Regions from separate parts of the Homo sapiens genome. Here all the other regions are reported to be linked to region 1. The links are microRNA targets in miRTarBase. Many come from high-throughput screens and were not tested one by one. Region 1 holds a microRNA gene; each other region holds the end of a gene's coding sequence. Distances are from middle to middle.
What was found. The annotated mature microRNA hsa-miR-6785-5p reads UGGGAGGGCGUGGAUGAUGGUG and lies in region 1 at 2,406-2,427, shown strand. An mRNA with a match to its seed (bases 2 to 7 or 8) in the 3' UTR can be bound and repressed. Matches are read on the target gene's strand: a 7mer-m8 pairs with bases 2 to 8, a 7mer-A1 pairs with bases 2 to 7 and ends in A, and an 8mer does both.

Region 1 (5,100 bases):
GGCTGGGGGTGTGTACTATAGCCGACCTCGCCCTGGCTGGGACCAATGCACCTGGGCATGGTGGGAGAAGAGGGTGGGGTGCCCAGTCCTGTGGGAGATACAGCTGAAGTGTGTGTGTCCCCCACCCTGAGCAGCATTGCCCTGGATCCCCTGTACCCATCCCGTTGCTCCTGGGAGACCTTTGGCTACGCCACCAGCATCAGCATGGCCCAGGCCTCGGATGGCCTTTCTCCCCTGCAGCTGTCAGGGCAGCTCAACAGCCTGCCCTGTTCCCTGACCTTTCGCCAGGAGGAGACCATCAGCATCATCCGGCTTATCGAACAGGTGGGTGCTTCGGCAGGCAAAGGAGGAGAGACGCAGGACAGGACCCGCCTGGGGTGGGAGTAGCAGCAAAGGACCTGTTTGAACCCGGGGACCTCATTCCCCAGCCCTCCGAGCGGGCTCTCCCAGGCAGTTACATTCGCCTCTGCTCCCCTCGTAGAAGCATCCTGGGCGTCTGGCTCTTGGCTAAAGTGTGTCAGCTGTTGGGCCTGGGAGAGGCCAGGTAGACCCAGGCCATAATCTGTCCCTCTTGGTCCCTAGGCTCGGCATGCCACCTATGGCATCCGTAAGTGCTTCCTCTTCCTGCTGCAGTGCCAGCTGACTCTTGTGGTCATCCAGGTGAGGTGGGGCCCGCACAGGCATTGCCCCCGTGCCACTCACCCCTTCACTCAGGGGCCAGCTGAAAATCTGAGGAAGGAGGCTGGGGTTAGCAGTACAGTCAAGGGGTCCCCCCAGAGCCTCTGTGAAGCCCCTGGGCTTTTTGAGCTGACCCTCATTGGCAGAAGAGTATTCCCTCCGGCCCCTGTTCCCTCTGGCAGGATGTGAGCATCTATCTGGGCCCAGGGCAAGGGAGCTCGGGGGCTCCTATGCCCTTATTATTTGCCTGAATTGAACTGTGGCTCTTGGCTTCTTTCCTGGTCTAGTTCCTTTCTTGCCTGGTCCAGCTGCCGCCACTCCTGAGTACCACCGACATCCTGTGGCTGTCCTGCTTTTGCTACCCTCTGCTCAGGTGAGATGCCATGTATCTTCCCCACACCCCATGCCTAAGCAGGAGGTGTCTGGATGTCACTGTGCAGCCCCAGGAGCCCAAGGTTCTGGAACTGCTCAGGTCTCACCTCCTCTGGTACAGGAGGCATGGAGGGAACCCCCTTTGTCTTTTTTTTTTTTTTTTTTTTTTTTTTTGAGATGGAGTCTCGCTCTGTCACCCAGGCTGGAGTGCAATGGTGCAATCTCTGCTCATTGCAACCTCCGCCTCCCGGGCTCAAGTGATTCTCCTGCCTCAGCCCCCTGAGTAGCTGGGATTACAGGCACCCACTATCATGCCTGGCTAATTTTTGTATTTTTAGTAGAGATGGGTTTTTGCCATGTTGGCGAGGCTGGTTTTGAACTCCTGACCTCAAATGATCTGCCCATCTCAGCCTCCCAAAGTGCTGGGATTACAGGTGTGAGCCACTGCCGTCCAGCCTTTGTTTTATTCCATCCCCTCACCAGACTCGACCTCACGCGCAAGACTCCCTAGAGGTTCCCTCTATGAGAATTGAGGGACAGAGGGTCATTGTCACCATCCCTCTACCTGATCTCTGCTTTTCAGCATCTCTCTGCTGGGGAAGCCCCCCCATAGCTCCATCATGTCTATGGCAACGGGGAAAAACCTCCAGTCCATTCCCAAGAAGGTAAGCAAAACAGACCCTGTGAGCCTTGCAAGTGAGCATGGAAGGGACTGAGGATTGGGGGAGGAGAGAGGGGCTAATCTGGAAGGCTCTGGATGGGGGATTCCAGCAGAACTCCGGCACTTGGTTCCTAGTCTTCCCCCAGATCAAAGAGGAGGTAGTGGCACAGAGCTGGGAAAGACCCTTGCTGGGGCTTGAGCTCCCTATCCCCCCAGGCCTGACCATTTACTAAGAGCCCGTTGAATACGTGGAAGAGCTAGGAGCAGCCGGCAGAGGGGCTGTGCGCCCCAGGAGTGACTGGCCTTGTTCCCGCAGACCCAGCACTACTTCCTGCTCTGCTTCCTGCTCAAGTTCAGCCTCACCATCAGCTCCTGCCTCATCTGCTTTGGCTTCACACTGCAGAGCTTCTGTGACAGCTCCCGGGACCGCAACCTCACCAACTGCTCCTCCGTCATGCTGCCCAGGTGGGTCCCAGCCCCAGAGATCCACCCATCGCCTGCCTCGCCTCGAGGCTTCCTCCCTCCCCACCCCAGCCTACCTCCCTGCGGCCCTAGAGGGGCTGAGCCCATGCCTCACTTTGGCAGCAACGACGACAGGGCTCCAGCCTGGTTTGAGGACTTTGCCAATGGACTGCTGTCGGCTCAGAAGCTCACGGCCGCCCTGATTGTCCTGCACACTGGTGAGAGGGCTCCCTGGGAGGGCGTGGATGATGGTGGGAGAGGAGCCCCACTGTGGAAGTCTGACCCCCACATCGCCCCACCTTCCCCAGTCTTCATTTCCATCACCCATGTGCATCGCACCAAGCCCCTGTGGAGAAAGAGCCCCTTGACCAACCTCTGGTGGGCCGTGACAGTGCCTGTGGTGTGAGTATTGCTAGGATGGAGGGCGGAGTGTGGGCTGGGGAGGAGAGGGCCTTCTGCAGGGCTAGGATCGGAGGGCGGGACCGGGGCCAGTGGTTTAACTGTACCCTGCCTGAGCTAACTGTTGTACTGGGAAGAGCAGGGAAGGAAGCAAGCAGTGTCGGGTTCACACGGGGCCGCCACCTCCTGCAGGCTGCTGGGTCAGGTGGTCCAGACGGCTGTGGACCTGCAGCTGTGGACACACAGGGACAGCCACGTCCACTTTGGCCTGGAGGACGTGCCCCTGCTGACATGGCTCCTGGGCTGCCTGTCCCTGGTCCTTGTGGTGGTGACCAATGAGATCGTGAAGCTACATGAGATTCGGTGAGCTGTCAGCAGGGCGCCTCCCTCTGGGCTCAGGCATGTTCCCTAAACCTGTTACTCCCTTGGCGACACTCCCCCACCTTTCCGCTGCCCATCCCTCCCTCCTCCTCTGGTGTCCTGCCCCGGCCCCTGGTCTAAGGATCTTTGCCAACCTGTACTTTAATCTCCTGCCCCACCAGGGTCCGAGTCCGCTACCAGAAGCGACAGAAGCTGCAGTTTGAAACTAAGCTGGGCATGAACTCTCCCTTCTGAGCCACTGGCTGTGGTGGCTGTAGTTGCCCCCGTCCCTGGGGCTAAAGCCAGACCCATTTCTGAACAGGGGAGTTTGTATCATGAATGTTTCCAGGTTTGCTCCTGCACCCGTGGCACTGGAAACCCAGCTCCCCGTGTCAGACCCCGCTGTCTTCCTGAGCCCTGGGGCTCACTGTGGAGGAGCTGACGGCCTGGGCCCTTGGCCAGTCCTGGCTCTTCCCTGGGCCTCACCAGGGACACTCTTGAATGTATGGCCTCAGGCGCTCCCTAGAGGGGCCCTAAACCCCCTCACCTGTGAGCTACCCCCTTTAGGGATCCCTTGCCCCCTTGGAGATCCCTTGCCCCCCAGTGCCTCTGCTCGTGGGTCCCTGGACACGGCCTTGAAGCCAACCTTCTTTGGAGGAGCAACAGCAGCAGCCTTGGCCGACGCGTCCAACTCCCAAGGCTGCCGTGGAGGGCAGGGGGGTGGTGCTTGCCTGGATGTGGCCCCGAGTGCCTCCCCTCCCTCCCTCTGTGGGGGAGTCTCCCGCCTGAACCTGAAGATGGAGCAGGGCCCCCGCTTCGCCCTGGAGCCTCTTCCTGTGCCTGGCTCAAGCTGGCTGCCTGTCAGTCTTGGGGAATCTGGCCCAGGTCTCCTCAGCCTCTGCCCCAGTTCTGGGAGAAGTTTCTACTGGTGTATATTTTTTACTGGAAATGAGCCTTTTAGGAATGAATGTAGACTGGTTTGTATTAAAATGTGTCAATTGCTAAGAAATACCTGTGGCTGGTCTGTAAGGCCACTCCAGGGTCTGCCCACCCCCGGCGGTGGCTGGCAAAGGGAGGCCTAAACCTTCCTCCATCTACGCGGGTGGGTCCCTCAGGTCTGGCTCAGGCGAGACCCCTAGGGTCAGGGGTCCCCATGTCACAGAGGCAAACACACAGCCCAGTCACGTGGAATGGTGTTTTCATTGGTGTTAGTTGGGGGAAGAGGTTAATGGTTACAGAGCCAGGGCCTGGGCCAATGGGGTCAGGCTCTCCCTGCCCTCAGGTGGGCAGTCGGGGCTCCTGCTGTGGTCCGAAGCCCCTCCCCCATTGTGTCCTCTCAGGCAGTTGATAGAATAAATTCCATTTAAAATATATGCATTTCTCTCTGCTTAGAAAATAACATTTACAATTGAAAAGTTAGGACTTGTGGGATCTGTTAACCCCACTGCCTCCCACCCCTGCTAGCCCTGCCTCAGTGAGGGAAGGCGGGGGCAGGAGCTGCCTGGGCACCACCGCTGTGTATTTACATGTCCTCTGTACACCTACGGAGAGGGGGCCCGGCCAGACACACGCCTCCTCCAGCCTCTCAGGGCCTGGGCAGGATGGTGGGTGGCAAGAGGCATTCCCTTGGCACAACTTGGGACATGGGCTGGGGGGTACAGAGAAAGCACCCCCAAAGCCCCACCCCTACTTCCTCCCTGAGGAGAGAGCTCTTACCAGGGTCCCTGTCCAGGAGCAGGGCTGTCCTGCTCAATCGATCAAACCCTGGGAGGGGCTTTGCTGAGATGCAGCGGAGGTCCCTCGCTAGTCAGGTTCTAAGGTGGGCTGCCCCACAAGAGCTGTGGTGCCCACAGCCGCGGGCTGAGTGGGAAGGGGCCCTGCTAGGAGGGGCACTTCAGCCTGACCAGCCCTTGGCCCGTCCCTAGGGTGGCAGGGGCCTCTTCTGTGCTGGGGCAAAGGCAGTGGACTTCGGCAGGTCACAGTGGGCACTGCTGGAGGGCTCAGTCCAGCATGGCGTCCAGCTGGTCAGCCAGGGCGTCGAACATGGTGCTGATGTCATCCAGAATGTGCTTGGTGGAGGCGCTGGGGGTGCTGCAGCAAGGGGAAGGATGCGGTCAGATCAGCCAGTGGCCTGCACCCCACTGGCCCTGGGGCAGGGAGCTGTCATA
Region 2 (5,100 bases), 47 Mb from region 1:
TACTAGATAAGTGTGTGGATTCAAATCCTGACTTTGCCTTTTACTAAAGTGTGACCTTGGGCAAGATACTTAATCTCTCTGGGTCTCAGTTCTCTCACTGCGTAAAGGGAATAATAATAACAACAGTCCCAATCTCACTGAGCTTTTGTGAGGATGAAAGGAGTTAACGTGTAAAATACACTCTAGCAGCACTGGGTAGGTACTTGCTATTATTATTATCACCTCCTTTCCCCATTACCATTTACCCTAAAATCTGTAACTTCTCACTGGTCTCCTCTCTCCCGCTCTTGCCCCCCCACTCCAGGCACCACGCAGCCACAAAGGAGTTCCTTCCAAAGGCTATTCTGACAGTCCGGAGCCTACTGAGGGCTGTTCATGGTCTCCACTGGTCTCTGCTGCCCAATCTATAAAATCCAAGCTTCTCAATAGGCTCTAGAATGTTCTCCAGCCCCCTCATTTGCCCATCTTCCTCATACTTTGTGCTCCAGCCTCATTAAATCTTTTTCTCAGTTTTTCAGATCAGTCCAGCTCTCTTTGCCTCAGAGCCTTTGCTTATGCTGTGCCCTCTGCTGTTCCCTTTCCTACTGATCATTAACCCAACTTCTACTGATGCTTAAACGTCTCAGAACTGCAATTACGGCCTTCAGGAAGCCCCTCCCCCACTCGGCTCTGGTGCGCCTTCCTCGGGTGACCCCAGCGCTCCGTGCACTCCCTCTTCGCGCTCAGCCGCCCGCGCCGCGCTCTCCTCCCTGGACCCGGATCCTCCGCAGCCCCTTTGCTGGCTTCTCTGTGTCCCGGCGGGTTCTCGGCTCACCGTCCCACGCGCCCCCGCTGCCTCTCACCTGGCGGAGGTCGAAGGCAGCCGCCTCCCCGCGCTCCTGGCTGCGGCAGGCCAGCACCACGCGCGCTCCCCGGCGCGCCAGCTCCAGCGCCGTCATCTTTCCGATGCCGCTGTTGGCGCCTGCGGACCGCGGGCGGGAGCCGAGCTGAGCTGAGCCCGGCGGGCCGCTGCTACCGCCGGCCCGGCCTCCTCTCCGCGCGCCCCGCCAGCTCGCACTCACCCGCCTCCGCACTCACCCGTGACCACGGCCGTGCGGCCCCGCAGGTTGCCCATGCCGCCGCACGGCGGGGCCTTCACCAGGTTGTAGTAGACAAGCACGTAAGCGCCCAGCAGCAACCCCGCGCCCAGCAGCAGCGCCTCCATGCCGGCCGCGCCTCCCGGCTCCCGCCCAGGCCCCGCACCGCCCTGGATCGCCGCCAGGCGGCTGCCGATCCGCCCTGCACAGGCCTGGAACGGCGCCCGGGCGCGTCAGCCTCCGAAGGCGGAGGCGGGCAGGAGGCTGGGCAGGGGCGTGTGCGCGTGCGGGTGCGCGCCGGCCCTGCGAGCGCCCCCTAGGCGTGCGTCGGCGTCCTGGGGGCGTGTGCCTCTGTGGACACCTTTGAGGTGAGTGTGTGCGCTTGGGCCCTGGGAGCGCCCCCTAGGTGTGTGCCTGTGTGAACTCCTGGGTGTGTGTGTCCACGTACACCCTGTGAGTGCACGCTAGGTATGTGCATGCATCTGCAACGCTTGTATGTGAATGATCTCTAGGTGTGTATGTGCCCATGTCCCTGAGGATCACCCTTTGGGTTGTGTGCGTGCCTCTGGATCCTGTGTGTGAGCTCCTGTAAGCACCTTGTAGGTGTTTGTGTGCATTCTGGCAGAGTCCCTCCAGGTATGTGCCTGCATCTGTAGTCTCTGCCAGTGCATGTGCTTGCATATCTCCATATGTTTACTCGAGGTGTATGTAGCACAGTCCCTCCCTTCTGAAGTTAGGTGTGTACATGAATACACGTGTGTCTTTGAGTCTAGTCCTAGATGCTTTTCCCTCTAAGAACAAATCCTTCTCCTTCCTTCCCTTCTGCACAAATCCTTCTCCTTTCCTTCCTTTCCTTTCCTTCCTTCCTTCCTTCCTTCCTTCCTTCCCTTCCTTCCTTCCTCCCTTCCTTCCTTCCTTCCTTCCCTCCCTCCCTTCCTTCCTTCTTTCCTTTCTTTCTTTCTTTTGAGACGGAGTTTCACTCTCGTTGCCCAGGCTGGAGTGCAGTGGCGTGATCCCGGCTCACTGCAACCTCCGCTTCCCGGGTTCAAGCAATTCTCCTGCCTCAGAATCCAGAGTAGCTGGGATCACAGGTGTGTGACACCACACCCGGCTAATTTTTGTATTTTAGTAGAGAAGGGTTTTCACTATGTTGGCCAGGTTGGTCTCAAACTTCTGACCTTAAGTGACCCACCTGCCTCAGCCTCTCAAAGTGCTGGGATTACAGGTGTGAGCCTCTGCACTGGGCCAAATCCTTCGTTTTCTTATCTTCACATCCAGCCCCCAGCTTCTAGGATTCTTCCGTGTTCTCCCCACACAGGCTAGAGAGGACACTGTTAAAGGTGGCACAGGCAGTTAAGGGGTGTCAGAATTCACTCCTTCATTCCCCCTCTGTATCTCCCTACCTCAACCCCACTAGTGCCTTCCATGGCTGAAGGGAAGCAGGAAGAGATAGAGAGTAAAATCTGTTATTGCCTTTCAGGAGGAAATTTGCCTTTGGAATGGTTCTCATAGGTGATAAGAGACAGGCAGAGAAGCTCCATCACTCAATTACAAGTGACCATGATGGCAGGAAGGGTGGGGCTGGCTAGGAACAAATGGGTAAGACCATTCCAGGGCAGAAGGCCGTTGCCTGATACATTCAGTACAATTTAGAACCTGGTATTTGGCACTTATGGTGTGCCCAGCAGTGTAGTTAGACTTGGAAATTCCGAGTGGAAGATATACAAGTTTCTGTCCTTAGGGAGTTCAAAAAGCCCATTAGGGCACCGGGAGCAGAGTGATGACGCCTGCATGGGCAGATGAAAGTCAGGGACAGACCTCAGATTCCAGGGCCAGTTTCCTATTTAGCTGCACTGCGGATTCGGGTTTCCATTGTAGATGCTGTGGGATGAGGCTGGGGGTAGAATATTCATTTTCTATCCCTAAGGCAAAATCCTGACACACAAGCAGATGCACCTACACAAACAGTGCTGGAATATACACAGAGGTGCTCTCCATCTGAGGAGGCTGACCTCAGGAAAACTTCCTGGAGAGTTTTTCACTAAGATCTGGGAGGAAAGCATGGAATTTGGTTTAATGAAGGTCCCCGGGACTTGAGAATTAAGGTAATGCAGCAGACTCGTTTTTTGATGAGGAATAGCAGTTGTAGAGAAGTGTGACTGCAGATCACATGACTAGAAGTGACAGGTCAAGACTAGATTCCACTATCAGTCAGGGTTCTCTGGAGAAACAGCTCCCCCCGGGCCAGCAGACGCACCCATGTCATTCCATTGTCATCCACCCACCCTGGCTCACTTTTCTCCAACACCTCCCCTACCAAACTTCCCTATGGGAATGAGACCTGTTCAAAAGGCCCCCCACCTGCTAGACCCAGATCTAGGGGAGGGTCTCCTCTAAGGGTGATGACAGGTAGGACAGACAGTCAGAAAACAATTTGAAGTATTTTTGTTTTTTATATACAGAATACAGGAAAGTTTCTGTAAAGTCTAAAACATTACAATTACTATGTACATTGGTACTGGTTGTGGGGGTGGGAGGAGAGGAGGGAACCAGGGGCAGGAGGAAGAGGAGAGAAGTGGCAAGAGAACAAAAAAAGGAGACAAAACAGGTTTACGACAAAAACATTTTTGCTACAATAGACAATTTGAGAAAACGCTCTACCACATGTAGTACTGTACACGGTTTTTAAAAACATTGAAAAAATGTCATCACTAGATGTATTTACACAAAATCCAAATACACTTTTCCTTATTTGAAATAAAATAGATGGACAGCCAGAAAAAGAATTCATTTCTCATTTGTCCATAATACACAGTAGCTACCTGTAGTGCAACCGCTGCAGAAAGGGAAAATAACGTGGAGGGTGGGAACCATGGAAGGAAGGTGGGTAGCGATCTTTATATTAAATAAAACAATGATATTGTATAGATTTTGCTGTATGAAAACTGTATTTTTTCTTTTAATATAAAACTATTGTCACTGCCACAAAATAGAACAAGTTTCTGATTATTTTACAATGGTGGGCGAGGGGGAGGGAGCAGGAGGTGGGTGGGGAAGGGTTTTGTGTTGGAGGAAGTGTCCAGACCCTGGGTCTTTCCCTCCCTGCCCACGCTGTTCCTCAGCTCAGGTCTGCCGCTTTCCCATGAAATGTTGAGTACAAATATATGTGCAAATGCCCCCTAGAACTTGAGAAAAGAAAAAGGATTTTTAAAAAACAGTCAAAAGGTTTTCTTCATTTCATGCAAAGATTGTAGTTGAAGGGTTTCTGGTAGAGTATAGAAAACACCCGGGCTTGGTTTGTGTACATTTTTGCATTGCAGGAGTCTTGGGTGGGTGTACAGGCCAGTGGCGGGGTAGCCGCCAGTCCTAAGGAACAGAGTTGGAGCGCAGCACAGGGCCCTGGTGGGGCTTGAGAGAGAGCTTCTCGGCCAAGACCCCATCCTGCAGCAGGCTGGCATCGCCTTTGGGCTGTTTGGTCGCAAACTCAGTGATGCTGAAGACAAACTGCAGGCAGCCCAGCTTGATGTAGCTGCCATGGTGCAGTAAGGCTGTGCCCTCCCAGCCGGCCCCACTGCCCCCAATCAAGCTCGAGCTGCTGGCTTTGCAATTGCAGGGTCTCCGCTGCGGCCCCTGGGCCTGGGAACTCATCATGGCTGCCTCCTCACTTGGCTCTTCGTCCTGTTTCTGGTGCCGGCGGCGCCCTGGGAAAAAGGGGGATGGTCACAGAAGAGGAACAGTGAGCAGCCAACCCATGTGGGCTGTTTGCCAAGGTTGGGCTCCTGCATCTCCCCATTCCAACTGCTGCATGACTAGGGAGGAAGGATGCTCAGAAAGGGTTGGTGGAGTCTGAAGTCCCCACAGGTGTGTACACACATGGGGGTACTCAGCACTTGCTTCTCTGTGGCCTGCCCTGGGCCCACGAGGAAGTAGAGCTTGGCCAATAGGACTGGGAAGGCAAGAGACAGACCATGGGCAGCAAGTCAGAACCACCCTGACTGGGGCCTCAGCTTTGTGGCCACAGATC
Region 3 (5,093 bases), not on the chromosome of region 1:
TTTCTTTTTTTTTTTTTTTTGAGACGGAGTCTTGCACTGTTTCCCAGGCTGGAGTGCAGTGGCGCAATCTTGGCTCACTGCAAGCTCCGCCTCCCGGGTTCACGCCATTCTCCTGCCTCAGCCTCCTGAGTAGCTGGGACTACAGGCACCTGCCACCACGCCCGGCTCATTTTTTGTATTTTTGGTAGAGATGGGGTTTCACCATGTTAGCCAGAATGGTCTCGATCTCCTGACCTCGTGATCCGCCCGCCTCGGCCTCCCAAAGCACTGGGATTACAGGCGTGAGCCACCGCGCCCGACCTCATTCTCTATGTTTCCCTCGCCCATCTACCTTTGGTTAGGATTTTAAGATTGTGGCTAGGTATGTATTCCAGGGAAAGGAATCCCTTGGGGTGGTGAGTGGCAGGCAGAGTAGAGCAGGATCGTATTCCTCCCATTGCAGCAGCAGGGAAGCAGATGGCAAATCTCACCTCCTTCCTCCCACTAGGTCGCAGAACTTGAAAAGCGCCTGACAGAGCTGGAGACAGCTGTACGTTGTGATCAGGATGCTCAGGTCAGGTGTTCTCCTGTACATAATCTGAGCCTTAGATCCTGCAACTCTAGGCCTTAAGGTCTACAACATTCCACATAAGCCTGGGAGGAGTCATCAAAGGGCTTCAGTTACAGGGATCAGCTAGTGGGTTCCCAGCTAGAACCAGGAAAGATGGGAGAAGACGATAATCATGGAGATATAAGGACCACTCACTTCTTCCCTTCCTTTCCCACCAGAATCCCCTTTCTGCAGGTCTACAGGGAGCCTGTCTCATGGTGAGTTTGGAAGAAACTGGAGTGTTTGGATCACAGAGGGGATAGTTGGGTTTGGGTTTGCTTTGAGGATTATTTTTGAGTTTGTAGCTATATATTAATTTAGTGGAATATGGGAGGCCTCTTGCTAGTCTGCCTTTCCTCTTCATGATGCTTGTCCCAACTTCCATCCCCAGGAGACTGTAGAGCTGTTGCAAGCAAAGGTGAGCGCCCTAGACCTTGCAGTTTTGGATCAAGTGGAGGCTCGGCTACAGGTATTAAATGGAGGGAAAATTAAATTATGGATAGCTTGGGACTCTGGAAGCCCTGGATGCCCTATCAACCTTAAAATCTGTGTTTTCAGAGTGTCCTGGGAAAGGTGAACGAGATTGCCAAGCATAAAGCCTCTGTAGAAGATGCAGATACACAAAGCAAGGTCAGGAAGACACCTTCCCCATCTCCTTTCCACTCCCTCAGGTTCTCCGAGTGGCAGTGTCAAAGCATGAGAACACACTGACTCCTCAGGTCCCCATCTTCATAAGCTCTTATGAAGAGCTTATCAGCTTGGAAAGTCAGGGCACTGCTTCCCTCTGCCCACTTGATCCTTTCCCCCATTACGGTGAAATAGCAGTCTGTACATACTGACCTGGCTGCCTCAGCCATCCCCTCTGGGCCCCATTGTGTCCCTTCAGGTGCACCAGCTATATGAAACTATACAGCGCTGGAGCCCCATTGCCTCCACCCTCCCTGAGCTGGTGCAGAGACTTGTCACCATCAAGCAGCTGCACGAGCAAGGTGGGAGGCCAGCTGCCAGGAGTGCTAAGAGAAGTTGAAAAATGGGCAACTTTTGGTCCCCTCCCTTATCTTGGATTCAAGTCTCAACCATACTTTTCTTTTGTAGCCATGCAGTTTGGTCAGCTCCTGACACACTTGGATACCACCCAGCAGATGATTGCTAATTCCTTGAAGGACAATACCACCCTCTTGACCCAGGTGTGTGCCCCTTTGTTGATCTGTCCTCCTTTCTCCAGCATGTGCAAACTAGGTTCTCCAGTGTTATAGGGTTCTGCCTTAGCCTATTTTGTAGCATGGTGTTGTGGCAGGGGGTTGGTCTGGAGTCTCCATCCTGCTTTCAATGTGAAGGCCCTTTGACAACTTATTTAACCTATGAACCTCCATCTTTCCATCTGGGAAATTATACCTCCCTCAGAGTTATGTAGATGAGGTGAAATAATATGGGCAAATTGTTAGGGGCTAGTGAACATGTTTTCTTATAAAACCCCACTCTTTCCCTTTGTCGTCTCAACTTTACTCTCCCTGATAAGCACAGTACACTGGAAGGAATCCGGGCTTTGAAGTCAGAAGCAGGCCCTAATCTCGTTCTGTCGCTTCCTTTCTGGCCCTGGACAATGAGCCTCACCTAGCTCCTTCATTCTTTTAGTAATGCCTGGCACACAGCAAGTCCACAATTTCTTATTGTTTTTTATTTTTAAGACAGAGTCTCGCTCTGTTGCCCAGGCTGGAGTGCAGTGGTGTGATCTCAGCTCACTGCAGCCTCCACCTCCCGGGCTCAAGCAATTCTCATGCCTCAGCCTATTGAGTAGCTGGGATTACAGGCACGCACCACCACACCTAATTTTTTTTTTTAGTAGAGACGGGGTTTCACCATGTTGTCCAGGGTGGTCTCAAACTCCTGACCTCAAGTGATCCCACCCATCTCGGCCTCCCAAAGTGCTGAGATTACAGGCGTGAGCCACTGCACCTGGCCGCAAGTCCCAATTTCTGTTGGAGGCACTGTTCTCAGTGCTGGAAGGAGCATTAAAGTCGAGAGACCAGCATCAATCACAGGATCACTGAGATAAATGAAAAAATATATAAAGGACTTAGAATAATATCCTTTTCCTCCAGAGCAGTTTTCTAACATTTTGAACCAGTGAAACCCTCATTTCAACAAAATCTTATTTAGCTCTCATTACATAAAACAGATTTTAAAAAACTGTTCTGGCTGAAGTCAGGATGGGAATTCTCGAGTCCTACCTGCTTGGGCTCACCCCAAGCGTGGTCTATGTACTCTAAGGGTAGCTTGAAAATTGGTGCTATAAACATCCCCCCTCTGTGGCCCACAAATTGTGCTTCCATTTCTTGTCTTCTCTCTCAGAGAATTCCTTCAGGTCCTCATCCAGTTAAGCAACTGGACCTGACAAAGAGTAAAACCTCTCTACCACTTTGTAGGTGCAGACAACCATGCGTGAAAACCTGGCCACAGTTGAGGGGAACTTTGCCAGCATTGATGAACGGATGAAGAAGCTGGGAAAGTGAGCACATTTGGGAGCTGGAGAACAGGGGTTATCCCTACCCCTGTGAACTCTGTTAACAGCTTACATAGGGTTTCCCCTTTACTATAACTCTAGCATCCCCATCCCATTTGACACTGGGGGCAAGGGTTCTTCTTGCATGTGGGGTTTATACCCCTCCCCTGATGAATACAGAGTGGTAGCTAGGGGTTGGTTATCATCAGAAGGTGGTCTCCCCTCAGGCCTGGGGGATAAGGACGTGGGCCCAGCCACATGCCAACTCATGTCCAATACTGCTTTGCCTGGTGTGGGGAAGGATTGGGTCTTGTCCCCCAACACAGCTTCTGTGGCTGACTGTAATACTGTACAACTGTTTCTGACCATTAAATGCTGTTGTACTCTGTGTGGCCTCTGCTGTGTTTCCTGGGGAGGAAGCAGCACTAGGATATAGATATTCATTCGTCATAACAGGCAATCTAAGCCACTCTATACTACAAGAGATGGATTTAAATTGTAACCTGTTCTTACCAAAGAACTAAATAAAAAATGAGTACAGAGCCAGAGCCAGAGTTTCAAAATATTCTCATCTGTTAAATTAAGAGTGTCTCCCATAGAAAAGCAGTGGAGGCCCCACAGGGCAAGTACAAAACAGAATTAAAACTCCCAAGGGTCTTGTCTTTACAAAAGAAAAGGCAGGAGGCAGCCCCTGGACAGCTGGTCATGCTGGCCGCTCCGGTTGGACCACGTTGCATAATCCTCAGTCGCATCATCACAACGTCTCTGAGCGTTTTGATGGGGGGAGAAGGGGCAGTGTAGTGTGTATGGGAGGAGAGGCCCAGAGGGCTCTCTTTGCCCCCTTACCCCCTTTTTTATATCCCAGAGGAAAGTCGGGGGAACCTGGCTACACCTTGAAATGAGGCTATGTGTTTCAAACCTGGGGACGGGGTAAGAGAGGATCTGTGCTTTGAGCAACCTGAGCCAGAGGCAGAGGGGTGTTGGAGGGGTAAGGGGAGGATGCATGATGCTTATTGCTTTGTACCTTTCACTGGGAAGGAGGGCAGCAGCCAACAGTAGCTCACAGGTTTGTAAACTGAGCCTGTTGGCTTTAAGAAGGGAGGCAATGAAATCGAATTAAATATAAAAGAGTCATTTGTGCAAAAATAACTTAAACAAATAAAAGACCTGGGGAAGGGGGTGTTCCCCTTAGCGCCTGGTGGGGAAAGGGCCATATACCATCCCCCCCAGGCCTTTTCAGTGACATGGCTTCGGGGGGGCGGGGGGGTGGTGGGGGGGGGTGAACTTCCCTGCCCCCTGCAATGGCTCAGGATGGGATTGTAGGGGAAGGAGTTGCATTTGTGCTCTGAGTGGGGAGTAGTGCCCCCACCCACTGTCCACAGGTGCAGGTGGCTGGCAGGGGCTCCCAAGGCTCAGCACTCAGCTCTCCCCAATCAGGGTCAGATCCAGCTCCAGGTATGGCTGCTATGGGGCCAGTTTCCTCCTCTTGTTTTTGGCAGGACGGCCAGGGCGGGCCCGGGGAGGCAGAGGGACAGCTGCCTAATATCAGAGGGGAAGTTGATAGAAGTGGTCAATTGCTAGGTATCAGGAAGTCTTCTTTTCTCCCCACTCCCTCTAACCCTCCTTTCCTCCTGCCGCCTCATCCCTTACACCCTACCCATCCACCCATCCACCCAAACACACACTTACTCGGGCTGTAGGGCTGGGTTCCAAGGTAATGTCCTGGCGGGAGCTATTGCTGTTCCGGGTAGGGCTGCAATAAGGGGCACAGATGATCAGGAACAGCTCCCAAGCACCAGGTGAATTTCAGAAGTTTGGGTGGGAAACTTTCTACATTTGGATAGTAAAGGCATAATATCCTTATTCATATTCAAATAAGAATCTGCCCTTTTGAAAACCAAGCCACTATTTGGACATTAGAACTGTCCAAACCAAAAAGAAGTAGGCAAAGGCCAGCACTATAGTAGGCCCAACACTCACTTGTATTTTCTCCTACGGCCA
Region 4 (5,100 bases), not on the chromosome of region 1:
CTGCGCCCCCCGTCCCTGTCGGCTGCGCTGCCCGGCGGAGACCCGCGTCCCCGGAACTGTTGCGCTGCAGCCGGCGGCGGCGACCGGCCACCGCAGAGACCGGAGGCGGCGCAGCGGCCGTAGCGCGGCGCAATGAGCGCGAGCGCAACCGCGTGAAGCTGGTGAACTTGGGCTTCCAGGCGCTGCGGCAGCACGTGCCGCACGGCGGCGCCAGCAAGAAGCTGAGCAAGGTGGAGACGCTGCGCTCAGCCGTGGAGTACATCCGCGCGCTGCAGCGCCTGCTGGCCGAGCACGACGCCGTGCGCAACGCGCTGGCGGGAGGGCTGAGGCCGCAGGCCGTGCGGCCGTCTGCGCCCCGCGGGCCGCCAGGGACCACCCCGGTCGCCGCCTCGCCCTCCCGCGCTTCTTCGTCCCCGGGCCGCGGGGGCAGCTCGGAGCCCGGCTCCCCGCGTTCCGCCTACTCGTCGGACGACAGCGGCTGCGAAGGCGCGCTGAGTCCTGCGGAGCGCGAGCTACTCGACTTCTCCAGCTGGTTAGGGGGCTACTGAGCGCCCTCGACCTATGAGGTAACAGCCGGGAGGCAGGGAGGAGGGAGGGCCGGGGGCCGGGGTGGAGGGACGGGGTGGGCAGGCCCGGCGGGTCGCGCCCCCAGGAGCCCGCGGAGCCGAGCGCCAGGCCCGAGCGATGGCTTCGATTTCGCTCACTCTTCATTTCCCCCAAAGTTTTTCAAGCCCGTGCAAGACCGGCGTTTGTTTGTCCGGGATTGCAAAACTTCCCCTCGCGGCTCAGCCGCCGACGAGGGAGGGGTAGACGAGGGGAGGGGAGCGGCCGTCGGGCCGTTGAGGTCTCTAGTGCTGGCGGATCCTGGGGCAGATTGGGGTGCTGGAGGCGGGGTGACTTTGCATTGCAAATCGCGCTCCCGGGCCGGGGCGGCAGAAATGAGTCGGCGGGCGCGGAGCCCTGACTCACCGCGGCTCCGAGCGCCCGCCCCGCCCCCGCCGTGTCTCAGACCGAGTCGCGGCACCCACGGACTCAAGACTCCAAAACCAACCGAGCAAACGAAACTGCCGACTTCGCTTGGGGGAGGTGCGGGCAGGGCCGGCCCGGGCGGGGTCTGCCCCGGGCCCGCGCCCGCGTTGACGCGCGTTTGGTTCCCCACCTTCCCCCCGCAGCCTCAGCCCCGGAAGCCGAGCGAGCGGCCGGCGCGCTCATCGCCGGGGAGCCCGCCAGGTGGACCGGCCCGCGCTCCGCCCCCAGCGAGCCGGGGACCCACCCACCACCCCCCGCACCGCCGACGCCGCCTCGTTCGTCCGGCCCAGCCTGACCAATGCCGCGGTGGAAACGGGCTTGGAGCTGGCCCCATAAGGGCTGGCGGCTTCCTCCGACGCCGCCCCTCCCCACAGCTTCTCGACTGCAGTGGGGCGGGGGGCACCAACACTTGGAGATTTTTCCGGAGGGGAGAGGATTTTCTAAGGGCACAGAGAATCCATTTTCTACACATTAACTTGAGCTGCTGGAGGGACACTGCTGGCAAACGGAGACCTATTTTTGTACAAAGAACCCTTGACCTGGGGCGTAATAAAGATGACCTGGACCCCTGCCCCCACTATCTGGAGTTTTCCATGCTGGCCAAGATCTGGACACGAGCAGTCCCTGAGGGGCGGGGTCCCTGGCGTGAGGCCCCCGTGACAGCCCACCCTGGGGTGGGTTTGTGGGCACTGCTGCTCTGCTAGGGAGAAGCCTGTGTGGGGCACACCTCTTCAAGGGAGCGTGAACTTTATAAATAAATCAGTTCTGTTTACCAGTGGCTCCTATCACCTACACTTCCCAGGTGACGGCCAGACTTCCGTGGTCACTACTCCTCAAACCCTGCTGCCTCCTCCGTAGGGTGGGTCTGGGTGAGATCTGGAGTGCAGCCAGGCCGTTGATAGCGGAGCCATTGGGACACCTTGTGAGGCTGGGGGCATCCTCCAGGAGGTGGTGGGCTGGTGGGTTGTCCAGACAGGGCTACTCGCTGGCTTGGAAGCTGCAGGCTGGAGGCTGCTGACCCATCCCGAGGGCTGGGGTAAGTGCTGGGTGTGGGGCTAGGCTGAGGTGGTCTGACCAGAGAGCACCGGCTGTGGGGCTGAGGGCATGGGCTCCTGCGCAGGCCACCACGCTCAGATCTCCACTAACGTGGCAGCTGGGCAGCCCAGGGCAAGTGGGTTAACTTGCAAATGGGTTTGACCAGACCCACCTCAACGGCCTCTGGGAGGAGTTAGTGAGAGGTGCCTGGAGGCTGCCCTCTCGCTAGCTTTGGGTTTTGCCCGCACTGGGGAGGCCCTGCAGGTCTCCGCTCACCTGAATTCTAAGAGCGGCTCTTGAAAGGAACAAGGAAGGCTTGGAAGCTTTGCGCCAGGCTCCCCGCAGCCGGAGAGCTGGCACTGGGATATTACACGGCTATACCTTTGACTCAGGGCCTAGGAGGCTTTGATGTCTCACTGTACCGAAAGCTGCCTTTTAGTGTCCTGGTGGGGGAGGGGTTGTGGGGCTCCCCCGGTTTCTTTAGGGCGCAGAGGCACCCCTTCCTTCAGAAAGGAGTGGTTGGGACAGAGCCGTGGGAGCCCTGCGAGGTGGGAGCAGCTGGTGTTGTCCCAGAGTGGGTGGCTCCTGAATAACCACGGCAACAGGACACCCAGGCTACCGGGATGCCTGGGTCTCAAACGTCAGGCTGGCCAGGTCCCTTCTTATCAGAGGAGCTCAGGGCTCCTCTCTCGCCAGCTGCAGCCTCAGTCCAGGTGGGGGCTCCTCAGCAGCCAAGGTCAAAGCCGAGTCTGTAGCGGGGGTCAAAGGGGTCAGCTGGTCTGATGAGGACCAGGCTCAACTGGGGTCAGTGGACCAGCTGTGGCTTGGGGCTGCAGGGCTCAGGGAACTGGCCTTGGCCAAGGGACAGGAGGGGGCACATTGCCGTGGTCACCCAGGGAGGGACATCCCACAGGCTTCTCCCAGAATCCACACCCGGGTCGGTGGCCTCCCTGAGCCCTCCCCAGGACTCCACACCTTGACCTCAAGGAAAGGCCCACAGCTGCCAGGACCACAGGGGGCTGTTGGGTGGGTGAAGAGGGTAGGGGGGAAACGATGGAAGGCCAGGGCAGAGGAAACGACTGCCACCCACTGGCGTGAAGCGGACAAAACTCTGCAGAGGGTAAGTAGTGCTGCCATTTTTGTTTTCCCATTTTCCCATTTTTCATTTTATTATGGAAAATTTCAAACATACACAAAAGCACCGAGGCCTTTGTTGAGCAGTCTCTGTGCCAGGACTTAGGGTGCATCCGTGTGCCACACAAGCCCGTGCTCGTGGAGCCTGGGTCCTAGCAGTGGACACAGGATCCAACCGTTGTACAGTCTGGCCGGTGGAGGACGCACTGGGCTCCAGGGCAGCCCTGGGAAGCCTCCAGCACCAGTTTCAAGGCCCTTCCTGCCCCATCCATCCCCCACGCCATCCCTGCGTTGCTTTGAAGCAAATCCCAGACTTTGAATCCTTTCACCCGTCATGTTTCACGTGTGCCTCTAAAGGAAACCGCAAAAACATCACCCGCTCAAATGAACCACCGTTCTTTCATATCATCGGGGACCCAGCCAATGGCGCAGTCCTCAGGGGGTCTCGTGGTTTTGTGCAGTTGGCCTTATAGAATCGGGATCCGCCGCAGGTCCACACATCAAGTTTGCTTAATAGGTCTCTTAAGCGCCTTGTAAGCAATTTCCCTCCAGTGTCTTCATTGAAGAAGCGGAGATGTCTGTTCCGTTGAGCCCCCGTGTGCGTGGTGGTGTTGATGGCACCGTGCTGGGTGTTGTTATTGGGAGCCTGTCCCTGTATTTCCTGTAGGACAGGGTATGGGGTGCCAGAAGCGGACCTTTGATCAAGTTTGGGGTGGCCTGCAAATGGGGTTGACACCAGGCCCACCTAATGAGTGTGACAGAGATGCCAAGAAAGATCCGTTCCAGGGAGACAAGGGACTCCCTTTCCGAGTTTGCCTCGAGAACTACCCAGCAAGCTTGTGGAAACTTCCATAGACCTCACAGCGATCTAGGCCCAGGCTATCCCCTCGCCTTCACTGGGGCAGAATCGCGTCGTGGTCTAGTGGCTTCCCACCCGTTGCCACCTCCTTCCTGTGTATTTCCTTTCACACGGGCGTTTCCCCGAATGCAGTCCTTATCCAGTTCATCCCACTTGGCACCTGCTGCTCAGAGGATGTAGTGCTGCTGGACTGCATCTCCCAGGAGACAGGACTTGTAGCGACGATGTAACTTGCTGTCCCAGCGGGGACATTTTTGAGACTGGAAAGGGCTGTGGTTGATAACCAGGACCACAGGCGAGTCTCCTGGGCACAGTGGGCTGCTGATTGCCGTGTTATGAAGACCCCTCCCCACACTGTCATTCACCCAGTGCCCAGTAAAGATGAAGTGCCTGAAGTCACAGGCAAGCTGGTCCAACCCACCTTCTCTTGCTGTCGTTTTGTTTTAGGCTCTCAGCAGCCTAAAGTCATGGTTTTAGTTTCTGTCTCTAGTGATAAGCAGAAAAGAGGGATGAGGAAGGGACCCTGCTGGCTCAACCAGAAACAGAAACTAAGAATCCATGACTGTCTTCTCTCCCTTGGACTCAGCTTGAAAATGATGAGAATTGAGATTTAAGCCCTGGACTCTTTCACTTCCACATTCTTGCAATGTTCACGCCTTCCAGGAAGTGAGGCTGAGCCTGGCGGCTCCTTTGGGGACATGACATCCTTAGCAGTTCAGCATTTGAGATCAGTGAGCCTGGACAGAGCCTCACCTGGCCCAGGTGCCAGCCTGTCCTGGGCTCTGCTGTGGGGGCAGCAGGGCTCTGCTAGGAGCTCATGGTCCAGGCCTAGTCCCCACCTGGAAGTTAGAAACTGATTCCAGGGAGAAGGTGATCGTGATGTCATGTTCAAGGTGCTAAAATATAAAGCATTTTTCTTTCTTCTATAGTCAACCTCTTGACTTACTATTTTATACTTCTTATTTTATACTCACTATTTAATGCCATTCTGAGTAAGAAAGATTAGGAATTTAAGTGACTAGCGTGAATGTAGTTATCCATCT
Region 5 (5,090 bases), not on the chromosome of region 1:
TTGGGGTTTCCTCCTGCCATGCCAGGGTAGGAAGGTCAAGGTCATCTAGATCTCCAAAGAGCAGCTGGGCTGAGGAGGGGTACTGAGGCCAGCAGCCTGGCCTGCGTGTGAGGTATTAAGACACGGCAGACACACAGAGTGGCTGCGGTTATCCTTGCTTCCCCTTTTCCCTGTTGAGAGGTCTCCATGTAATAATGCCTCCTTTCTTCTCTTGCAGGGCGATGGCTGGGTATACTTCAATCCCCTCTGGAAAGCACACTGATGGGGTGGAGGTGCAGAGCTTTCCAGTATAGCCCTGTTTTTGTAGGAATATTAAAGTAGTAGAGTATCAGGGTTTTGTTGGCATTCACTGAGACCTTGTATTAGCATCCAAGAAATGATGAGAGAGAGAGAAATTATATACTATGAAAAGTGCACCCCCACACTCTGCTAGAGGAATGAATTTATTCAAGAGCCATTCGGGGCACGTGTGTGTACACACCGTATACGTTCACACACATGCACTATGTAAACATCTGAGTATGATTACACATTTAAATACTGCACTCACCAAGGTTAAAGTGGGTAATCATAAGCTCCTTTTTATCAATGAAGTTTGAAGTTTTTCTATTTTTCACTTTGCCAAAAATGTTTTACACTCACAAAGATATTCTCACTTAGTCAACTCCTGTCAAAATGAAGGTGAACTGGCATGGCCCGATCACTGTCCATAAGGGAGAAAGTGGCTCATTCCTGGTAGAAGTATGGGTGGTTATCATTTCAAAATTATTGTGATTCTCACCTCCCTCCCCACCTCAGTGTTTTGTCTGTCCGCGCCCAAGAAAGATAAGCAAGTATTTCCTGCTGGATGGGGGTTGGCAGGAAGCTGTTAAAGATTTATGCCAGAGCCTTGCAGGATGGAGCACCTCTGGGACAACTAAGAGCCAAGGCCCACCAAGGAGTTTTCCACCCGTCTCTCATGGTCACAGCGCTAGTCATTCATTTTTGAGAAGTTGCTTCTTTTACATCAGAAAACCAGTCAATCATATGGAGACTTCTTTTGTGATGAAAAAGGGCTTTAGAAGTTAAATACATGCATGCACATGAAAACATGCACAACCACAGCCTCAATCTTGTATTTAGTTTGGGGAAAGAGAAGAGAATTTCCTGTGGATTATTTTTTCCTCAAGTGCACCTCTCTGGTTAACCCAAACTCTGCAAGAAAGCACTGTGACTAAAACATACATAACGCCTGCATAAATATTCCATGGTTTCAGTTAAATTTCAGTTTTTAGCCTTTACACATGAGGTCAAAGGAGTGACGAAAATACAAAGCAAGGAAAAAATGAAATATCTGGTTTTTGCTGAATGCTTAATTTATTTTTTACTGTGCCACTCCAATATTTATCAAATCCAAATAGCATGAATGCTTCTCTGTAGTAATACTAATTTTGTGCCTTTTGTCTGCTTTCTTAAGACCAGTTGTTCACACTTTGTAGATATTAGACAAATATATTTCGATTGAATACATATCTGTGTCTGTGTTTTATTTTCAGGGATTCAACAGTTCTATTAAATTGGTGGCTCTAAGTGAGCTCAACTTTTCCTGGTTAAATATTTCTAGTTATTGATATGAAGAGCAATCATATCTATATGGAAAAAGTATTTAACACATTTAAAAATGTACCAGATAAACATTTATGAATATTTTCTGGTAAGTCCATAAGAACATTTAACTCCTACCCAGTGAGTGTTGTTTCACGAGAAGAGTCACTGCCAGAAGTCACAATAGAAGCCTACTTAGGTCCACAGTCTTTAAAGCATCTGGGTGAATCAAGTATCTGGAACCATCTTATTTCTGACAGAGAAAGTGGAACAAATGCTATTTTGAGAAAAAGAAGAAAACTCAACTCAATGAGACTGAAAAGTAATCACTGTGTTGTTGGATTTTCCAGTCTGACTACAAAGCATAAACCATCTGGGAAGTAAAACATGGAGAGGGCTCACTTTTCTTTTGAGGCCAGGGGTACATTTAAAATTGTGAAATGTTATGTGTCAGGAGATTTACATAAAACATATGTACTCCAGGAATAATTATAAATACCCTTGTAGCCACTGCTTAAGCAAAGAAACCTGTTTACCAGTACCTTAAAAGCCACTATTGTGCCCCTATACAATTGTATCCCTCTCCATGCCTTCCTGGAATAACCATCCCCTTATGGGTTTTTTGTTGTTCTTTTAGACTATACACACTATGTGTGTATTTCTAAACAGTGTGATTGGTTTTACCCATTTTTGTAAAAATTGAATCATACCCTAGTTTGCCTATTTGAGCCAATATTTTCTTTCTAGTTCAATCCTTGTTGCTCTATTTGTTCATTTTCTTGCTGAGTTCATATTATGTTTTATTGTGGTAAAATATATGTAACAAAATCTACCATTTTAACTATTTTTTTTTTCCCAGATGGAGTCTCACTCTGTCACCCAGGCTGGAGTGCAATGGCGCGCAATCTCTGCTCACTGCAACCTCTGCCTTCCGGGTTCAAGCGATTCTCCTGCTTCAGCCTCCCGAGTAGCTGGGATTACAGGCGTGTGCCACCATGCCCAGCTAATTTTTGTATTTTTAGTAGAGATGGGGTTTCACCATGTTGGCCAGGCTGGTCTCAAACTCCTGACCTCAGGTGATTCACCCACCTGAGCCTCCCAAAGTGCTGGGATTACAGGTGTGAGCCACTGTGCCCAGCCTGGCATTTTAAAAATATACTGAGAAGTGGAATTGCTATATCATATGAAAATTCTGGTTTAAGTTTTAAGGAATTGCCACACAGTTTCTCACAAGAGCTGGCTGCCACATTTTGCAATGCCACTAGCAATGCACAAGGGATCCAATTTCTCCACATCCTCACCAATACCTATTATTTTGTTTTTACTTTTGTTGTTTCTTTAACCCCATCCTAATGGCTATGAAGTGCCATCTCAATGTGGTTTTGATTTATATTTCCCTAATGATTAGTGATGTTGAGCATGTGTTTTTGTGGTTTTGGCCATTTGTAAATCTTTGGAGAAATGTTTATTCAAATCCTTTTGCCCATTTTAAAATTAGGTTCTTTTTGTTGAGTTTTAGGAGTCCTTTATGGGTATTAATCCTTTCTGGATATTAATCCTTTATCAGATATGATGTGCAAATATTTTCTTCTGACTCTTTGGTTGCCTCTTCACTGTTAATGGTGTCCTCTGATGTACAAAAGTATTTAATTTTGATAATGTCTAATTTATTTTTCTTTGTACTTGTGCTTTTGATGTCATATCCAAGAAATCATTGACAAATACAATGCTGTGAAGTTTTTGTCCTATGATTTCTTCTAAGAGTTTTATAGTTTTAGGTCTTACTGGGGGGTAGGGGGTACTTTGATCCATTTTGAGTTGGTTTTTATATATGGTGTTAGATAAGGGTCCAACTTCATTCTTTTGCATGTGGATATCCAGTTTCCCCAACACCATTTGTTGAAAAGACTCTGCATTCCCCATTGAGTGATCTTGGTACCTTGTTGAAAATCACTGGCTATATACACGAATGTTTATTTATGGCCTATTCTTTTCCAATGGTCGATGTCAGTCTTTATGCCAGTACCACACTCTTTTAGTTACTGTAGCTTTGTAGCAAGTTACAAGATTAGGAAGTATGAGACCTCCAACTTTTTTATTCTTTTTTCAATATTGTTTCGTCTGTACAGGGTCATTTAAGATTCCATGTGAATTTTAGGATGAAATTTTCTATTTTTGCAAAAAACTCTGGGATTTTGATAGGGATTGCATTGAATCTGTAGATCCCTTTGAGTAGCATTGTCTTAACAGTAAGTCTTCCAATCTGTTAACCAGAATATCTTTCCATTTATTTATCTGTCTTAATTTCTTTCAGCATGTTTTGTAGTTTTCACTGGGCAAGTCTTCCTCAGTTAAGTTTAATTCTTAAGTATTTTACTCTTTTTGGTACTACTGTAAGTAGATCTTTCTCAGTTTCCTTTTTGGATTGTTCAATGTTGGCATATAAAAGTGTAAGTGCCAGGCACAGTGTCACATGCCTATAGTTCCAGCTACTCAGGAGGCTGAGACAGGAGGATTGCTTGGGCCCAGGAGTTTGAGATTTCAGCATGCTATGATTGCTCCTGTGAATAGCCACTGCACTCCAGCCTGGGCAACATAACAAGACCTCATTTCGTAAAAAACACATAATACTGATTTTTGTGCATTGGTTTTGTATCCTTTGCTGAATTTGTTTATTCTAACAGTTTTTTGGGGGGTGTGTGGGATCTAGGATTTTCTAGATACAATCATGTCATTTGCTAACAGATTTTACTTCTTCCAAATTTGGATGTCTTTTATTTCTTGTTCTTGCCTAATTGCTGTACCTAGAACTTCAAATACTGTGTTGAAGGAAGGAGGCAAAAAAAAAAAAAAAAAAAAAAATCCTTGTTTGTTCTTGATCTTACTGGAAAAGGTTTCAGCCATTCACTATTATGAGATTGGTTGTGGGTTTTTCATATATGGACTTCATTATGTTGAGGTACTTTCCTTCTACTTCTATTTTGCTGAGTGTTTTTGTTATAAAAGGGTGTTGTATCTTGTCAGAATGCTTTTTCTGCATGAGTTGATCAAGTGGTTCCCCCCCTCTATTCTGTTAATGTGTGGTGCATTGCACTGACTTTCATATGTTGAACCACCTTGCATTCTAAGAGTAAACTCCATGTTCTCATGGTGAATAATCCTTTAAATATGCTGTTGAATTTGCTTTGCTAGTATTACACTGAAGATGTTTGAATCAATATTCATTCATAATGGTTGTTGATCTGTAGTTGTCTTGTGTCTTTTCTGGCTTTGGTACCGGAGCATGCTGGCCTCATAAGATGAATTAGATTTTCTGTTTCTCTATTATTCAATCCTGGTAGGTTGTGTGTTTCTAGGAGTTTGTCCCTTTCGTCTAGGTTATTCAATTTGTTGGCATACAATTGTTCATGGTATTCTTAGGATCCTTTTTATTTTTGTAGAACTGGTAGTAATGTCTTCACTTTCATCTCTAATTTTAGTTATTTTTTTTTCTTTGTCAATCTAGC

Region 2: miRTarBase lists PHF12 as a target of hsa-miR-6785-5p. Seed matches in the 3' UTR shown: 7mer-m8 at 4,106-4,112 and 7mer-A1 at 3,608-3,614.
Region 3: miRTarBase lists MBD6 as a target of hsa-miR-6785-5p. Seed matches in the 3' UTR shown: 7mer-A1 at 3,900-3,906.
Region 4: the mRNA of ASCL2 is a reported target of hsa-miR-6785-5p. Seed matches in the 3' UTR shown: 7mer-m8 at 1,392-1,398.
Region 5: the mRNA of OSBPL10 is a reported target of hsa-miR-6785-5p. Seed matches in the 3' UTR shown: 7mer-m8 at 784-790.

The regions. Positions count from the first base shown.
Region 1 is chr17:75,496,148-75,501,247 of GRCh38, forward strand. It overlaps MIR6785 (microRNA 6785), which reads left to right and starts at 2,401; the gene lies at 2,401-2,481. TMEM94 (transmembrane protein 94) reads left to right here. Exons shown (of 32, transcript NM_014738.6): 24 at 135-324; 25 at 583-660; 26 at 966-1,051; 27 at 1,634-1,715; 28 at 2,028-2,176; 29 at 2,297-2,391; 30 at 2,482-2,575; 31 at 2,765-2,935; 32 at 3,115-4,305. The coding sequence ends at 3,187. CASKIN2 (CASK interacting protein 2) reads right to left here. Exons shown (of 20, transcript NM_020753.5): 20 at 4,114-5,023. The coding sequence ends at 4,933.
Region 2 is chr17:28,901,741-28,906,840 of GRCh38, forward strand. It overlaps PHF12 (PHD finger protein 12), which reads right to left. Exons shown (of 15, transcript NM_001033561.2): 15 at 3,510-4,777. The coding sequence ends at 4,443. It overlaps DHRS13 (dehydrogenase/reductase 13), which reads right to left and starts at 1,339. Exons shown (of 5, transcript NM_144683.4): 1 at 1,078-1,339; 2 at 843-961. The coding sequence starts at 1,204. RefSeq lists silencers at 238-430, 932-1,561 and an enhancer at 4,106-4,606.
Region 3 is chr12:57,528,698-57,533,790 of GRCh38, reverse strand. It overlaps MBD6 (methyl-CpG binding domain protein 6), which reads right to left. Exons shown (of 13, transcript NM_052897.4): 11 at 5,073-5,093; 12 at 4,782-4,845; 13 at 3,643-4,631. The coding sequence ends at 4,557. It overlaps DCTN2 (dynactin subunit 2), which reads left to right. Exons shown (of 14, transcript NM_001261413.2): 8 at 488-553; 9 at 769-807; 10 at 981-1,058; 11 at 1,148-1,219; 12 at 1,476-1,578; 13 at 1,685-1,776; 14 at 3,016-3,740. The coding sequence ends at 3,102. Among named protein-coding and RNA genes, the nearest start is that of MBD6, 8.4 kb to the right of the region's middle.
Region 4 is chr11:2,265,199-2,270,298 of GRCh38, reverse strand. It overlaps ASCL2 (achaete-scute family bHLH transcription factor 2), which reads left to right. Exons shown (of 2, transcript NM_005170.3): 1 at 1-566; 2 at 1,173-1,801. The coding sequence ends at 548. Among named protein-coding and RNA genes, the nearest start is that of ASCL2, 2.8 kb to the left of the region's middle.
Region 5 is chr3:31,657,244-31,662,333 of GRCh38, reverse strand. It overlaps OSBPL10 (oxysterol binding protein like 10), which reads left to right. Exons shown (of 12, transcript NM_017784.5): 12 at 218-1,509. The coding sequence ends at 262. Among named protein-coding and RNA genes, the nearest start is that of OSBPL10-AS1, 44 kb to the left of the region's middle.